Linked DNA regions of Homo sapiens: region 1 is linked to region 2. Evidence: fine-mapped expression QTL. A gene starts in region 2. The other region holds a variant in brackets. All regions are shown on one strand. Distances are between the middles of the regions.

Evidence for each region.
Region 1: its variant is fine-mapped to the expression of HLMR1 in liver (GTEx, PIP 0.98).

Annotation. Positions count from the first base shown.
Region 1 is chr3:142,940,594-142,943,512 of GRCh38, reverse strand. HLMR1 (hepatic lncRNA metabolic regulator 1) reads right to left here. Exons shown (of 5, transcript NR_038455.1): 5 at 977-2,114. Among named protein-coding and RNA genes, the nearest start is that of HLMR1, 15 kb to the right of the region's middle. The variant C/T (reference allele first, on the strand shown) is at 1,649.
Region 2 is chr3:142,924,902-142,927,820 of GRCh38, reverse strand. HLMR1 (hepatic lncRNA metabolic regulator 1) reads right to left here and starts at 1,146. Exons shown (of 5, transcript NR_038455.1): 1 at 925-1,146.

The DNA of each region.
Region 1 (2,919 bases), 16 kb before region 2:
AACCTGTTGGGGCTTTGGAACCTGTAGTTAGGTGACTCCAAAGATCAGCCAGTTCAGGGAACCCTTGCAGCAAGATTGTCCAAGTGTTACTAGAAGTAGATTCACCAGGATGCCAAAGAGGCTCAATTTTCAGGGCCTTTCATTTGCATGGGTCTCTTCCAAAGCACCGTATCTAATTTTATATTTGTAATTTTGTATTCCTTTTCTTTTCTTTTCTTTTCTTTTTTTTTTTGAGACAGAGTCTCGCTCTGTCACCCAGACTGGAGTGCAGTGGCACTATCTCGGCTCACTGCAAGCTCAGCCTCCCAGATTCATGCCATTCTCCTGCCTCAGCCTCCTGAGGAGCTGGGACTACAGGTGCCCGCCACCATGCCCAGCTAATTTTTTTGTATTTTTAGTAGAGATGGGGTTTCACCCTGTTTTGCCAGGATGGTCTCGATCTCCTGACCTTGTGATCCACCCACCTTGGCCTCCCAAAGTGCTGGGATTACAGGCGTGAGCCACCATGCCTGGTCTTGCATTCCTTTTCTTAAAGAGGGCCCCCTAATTGTAAAGAGCTCAGTCCCCACAAAACCTGAATCTGCTCCTGGCCATAAAGTATACTGTAGTCAGAAAACTATAACTCCCAGGCAAATCTGGCTCTCTGCCGGCTTTTGTACAGCCCACACACTAAGAATAGTTTTTACATTTTTAAATGGTTAAAAAAAAAGAAGAGTAATACTTTATGACACATGAAATTACTTGACATTCAAATTTCAGCATTCATAAATAAAGTTGTATTGGCTCACAGCCATGCTCACTCATTTATGTATTGTCTATAGCTGCTTTAGTGCTACAATGGCAGAACTGAGTAGTTGCAACAGAGATTGTATGGTCTGAAATGCTTAAAATATTTACTATCTAGGTCTTAACAGAAAAAGTCTGTAGACCCCTGACCCATACCATGAAATAATAACATCTTAGACATGACAGAAAATTGATTTGAAGGGATTGCTTTATTTAACGTGAAAAGCGTGATAGAGGAACTGTTTAAGATAAACAACTTATAAATACTCCCAATTGTAGAAGTGAAAGATTGATTCTATGAAAATCTACAAGTGATTAAATTTAGACATGAATATCAAAGACTTTATAGAGTCATAGCATCTTATCAAAGATCATTTAGCAGAAGTTATGCTTAGTCTGTAGGTTAGAAGCAATGATTAGTGAGACAGATTGGTTTGTGGGATGACTCAGGATAGGATGATTATCAGTAAAAACCTTCCCAGGTAAAAATTACAAGAAAAAGAATAGAGGATAGTTGCAAAAGATTTATGGAATTAGTTTAACCACTAAGCATAAAATAGTACTGCTCTGGGTTGTGAAAAAGTATAGTAAAATGTTGCTAAAGTTATATTTCAAAGTGTAGCTCCCAGAGATGAAACCAGTTAAAGCAATTCTACAAACAAAGCTAAAAACATTTTAACAATAATGATGGGGTGTATTGGGCAAGAACTGTGACAGATCATCGAATTCCGACAGCAAAGCACATTAAAAATATTGATTTAGCTGTCTCTCTTGATAGAAGTATGACAGAAAGTTAGGCAGAGCTGTGAAGGTCACTCTGAAGGTCTGGGACCTCAGAGAGGCAGCAAGGAGCAAAGTCCAT[C/T]GAAAGACAGTCAGTGTAGCACTGGGGTTGGTGGGAATGCTAACCGGTCATGTTCTGTAGCAGATTTCTCAATCAGGCAAACAGTAGGAGGAACGTTATATCCAAAAGACAAATCGATTAGGAAGTTTGGCCAGTGAACATATTATTAGGATTGGGAGGTCAATGATCAAGGCAGAAGCTCTTAGTCAGTTCACTTTGCAGCTCTCATCATAGGATTGTACAAAAGAGAAGAAAAGATCTTCCTTAACTGACTCAGGGCCAGGTACTTTGAAGATCCAAGTAGTCTGCTACTCCAGCTTCTGCTGGAATCTTGGCTGTTTGGAGGCAATTTGTTCTGTGCCTTTTGGAGAAATCCCCTGTGTTCCAAAGAACACCTGGGAATAATATCTCAACTGTAGTTCAACTTTTCCATTTTCACAAGAGAAGGGACTTGAGAGCTGGACGGTAAGAGAGTCGTTGAGTCCATCTGAAGGATGGCAGACAGAAGGGAAAGAGGAAGGACAGCATCATTTTCAAGCATCTACTATGAACTAGGCACTCTGCATATGTTACTTCATTATTTTCACATCTCCTCAATGTAATTATTATTGATTTCACTTAACATCTGGGGAAACAGGGAGCATAAGTTTCACGCTCACACTCATCCAGTCTCTGACTGAACTAGTGAACTACTGAACTACTGAATTCATGAATGTGAATGCTGAAATGTGAACGCACGTCTGTCTGGCTGCCTGGCCCCAAGTCCTTACTCCTTTCAACTTACCTGGTTGCTCCAGGCAGGCTCTCCAAGAAGACAGAGCAGCAGGAAGAAAAATATGGCATATAAATATGTTTTTCCACTTTCAAGGACCACCAAGACATTTCTTAAATTTATTGGAGTTATAAAAACAAAACTAAATACCCTTCATTAATGAATGATACTATCTCTAAGGTGGAAGGTCACATTACCTATCGCAGTCTTCCTTAAAGTGTCAAATTCGGAATGTAGGAAATGTCCTGTATTAGGTCCCTTTGAGACTTTACACAATTTACCCCAAACTCGCTGTAAAAAATGGTCTCTTTATACGTAGAGTTAAAGTTTCGCCAACTACAGGTTGCCCAGGAGAGGCAAGCAGCCCTCCTGGCCCCTAGTTTCAGCTATGACTAGTTTCTTTTTCACCACAGTCCAATTAGAAATGAGGTCATAGTTGTAAGTCTTCTCTTCCCTGAGGGTTTTTTTGTTTTGTTTTTGTTTTTTATGCAGGCCATTATAGTAACGAGTCACATGGTCT
Region 2 (2,919 bases):
AAAAGGCAATATCCAAGAGGCAAGTGAATAGTATAAGTCAGAACTCTTTGCGTGCAAGCACCAGAAACTAAATTTAAAATCTCTTAAGTTATCTCAAAAGCTATTTATTTGCTGGCAATAGTAGAAGGCATTGTGGGCTGAATTTTGTCCCCCCACAATTCATGTGTTGAAGTCCTAACTCCCAGAACCTCCAAATATAACCATATTTGGCATAGGGCCTTTAAAGAGGTAATCAGGGTAAATTGAGGTCATTCGGATGGATCCCAATCTAATCTAACTGGTGTCCCTGTAAGAAAGTGAGATTAGGACAAAGACACACACAGAGGGAAGGCCAAGTGAAGGCACAGAGAGGAGGCCTATATGCAAGCAAGAAGAGAGTTTCCAGAGTGAAACCAACCTCCATGACACCTGGATCTCAGATTTCTAGTCTCCAAAGTCACAAGGAATTAAATTCCCATTTTTAGCCACCCAGTCTGTAATACTTTGTTAATGCAGCCTGAGCAGAATAAAATAGAAGAATACTGGGTGTTTCATAGAATTAAAGAGTTACAGGAAACAGTCGGAGCCAGGAATCTCAAGGACTAGAACAAGGACCTCAACACCTGCAGAATACACACACTATCCTCCCCACACTTCCAGCTTCAGAATTTAAAAATGCCAAGGATGGCCTCAACTGATCCAGTTGAGGTCGCATTCCCAACCCTAAGCCAATCATTTAATTCTCCTAGTTCAGTGATGCATCTCTACCATCCTTCGCCGGTCTGTGTCCCCAGATCCTCCTGTGGTTGAGTTTCCCAAGAGAGTAAACCTGGTTTCTGCCAGGACAAGAGAGAGGCTGCTGAAAGATGAGGAAGGAATCCAGAGGTCTGACTGCTTTCTCCAAGGACTTTCCATAAACCTCCTGTTTTCAGCTCCGCCTCTTACCTTTTCTTTCAGAAGAATCTGGTGCCTCCAATTCTGGGGACTTTACGGGTGCTGTGCCATGAACTAGCTTCCTTCTTAAGCTCCCCATCTGCTGGTACTGCAGTTTCAGCCCCTGTCCATGTCCATCTCCAAAAATGAGATGACATGGACTTTTCACCTATTCTTTCTGTCTTGTGGACTTGGGCCTTTTTGGCTTCTTTGCTGTCATTTTAGTAGCATTTTGAAAGAGATGAAAGAAAAACACAGGTTTTTAAACTGCAATGTTTAACCAGAAGTCTATTTTGGGAATTTTCAAATAATCCTCTGTGAAGGTGCCACAGTGGCTTACTTCTGGCTTGGGAAGGTGGCAGTAGCACAGAGGACAGACAGGAGAGCAGACTAGGAAAAGGGTAGGCAGGCTCTGGCCTCTGCCCCCGCATCAAGCAGAAAATCTTGCTTTTTATGTTTTATACATTGTCCTTCTAAGATTTCATTTGAAGAAAGAGACTTTAACTAAAAATAGAAAATCTTAAAACCACTGTGCAATACCAGCCTGCCTCCTACATATTTTAAAGAGTTTAAATTATGGTGTACATACATGTATTCTGGTTTTTTTTCATTAGATTGTGTTACAAACATGTTTCCATATTTATGTGGCTTTTTCATCATCAGTTTCTTAACCTAGTGCCTGGCACATGATAGGCTTTTAGTAAATAGTGATTGATTGAATGAATGAATTATATTTAACAGCTGCTTCTAATTTATTTGTAATTACAGAGAATAAGCTCTTCCATTCATTCATTTATTCACCCAACACATATTTATTCAATACCTATTATATGTCAGGCATTGATGGATGGTGCTGAGAATACAGGAATGAGTAAGGCAAACCGTCCTTTCCACACAGAGCCAACAGTCTAACGGGGGAATCTGACAAGTGAATTGACAATCACAATATGTATAAAAGCTATGGGAAACAAAAAGCATCTACAGGAGCACATCATAGGGGTCCCTAATGCAGACCTGAAAGTTGGGGAAGTCTCCCTGGAGGAAAAGACTTAAAGTGAATCCTAAAAAACTAACAAAACAGTTTCTGGTTCAGCATGTAAGAAATTTGGAAGTTGCCACTCTGTCCTAATGAGTAAAAAGCTGAACAAACTGAAAAACCAAATTAGCCAGGCATGGTGGTGCACACCTGTGGTCCCAGCTACTCGGGAGGCTGAGGCATGAGAATTGCTTGAGCCTGGGAGGTGGAGGTTGTAGAGAGCCGAGATTGCACCATTGCACTCCAGCCTGGGTGACAGAGCGATATTCTTGTCTCAAAAAAAAAAAAAAAAAAGCAGTGAAAAATCAACAACTCTTCTTAGCTCTATAAGAGAAGTGATGGCACAGGACAAATTGCTTCCCCCAAAATTGGGAAGACCAACAGGCAAATACAGAGAATCACAACTTCAAGAGCAGAAACCTCCATGGGAACCAGTGCTGGCACAGAAAAGTCTGAACTTGTAACTGTGAATTGCTGGAGCCAGTTCTCAGACAAGTGTGAACAAGTCTGAGAGATAAAAATCCAGGGGAACTGAATCATAGAGAGGTCCCCACACTTTTGTGGGTTTTACCTCCAGGAGCACTACCAGGTCTCACAGTGAATATTAGGGAAAAAAATCCCCTCCTGCTTCCAGCAGTGGGAGGGGAAAAGGAGCCATTTTGAAATATGCTAGAGCATTATGTTCTTAACAAGGTCTGTCCTCAGGAGAAACTATGTAACCAGAGCCTGACCTGCTGGGGTTAAATATCCAACTCAAGTCCATTCCAGCCATCCTGTCCCACCTAAGGTGAGGTGGGGGAAGGGACCTAGAGGCACATGAAGTTCACAATCCAGAGTAATGGGCTCACTGAAAGACTGAGGAGAACACTTCCTCTCCCCACAGATCTTACCACCACCTAACTAAAGGCCTGTTGACAGCAGTTCCTTTTACCCAGGACACGTATCATTCCTGCTATCCAAAAAAGAAAAAC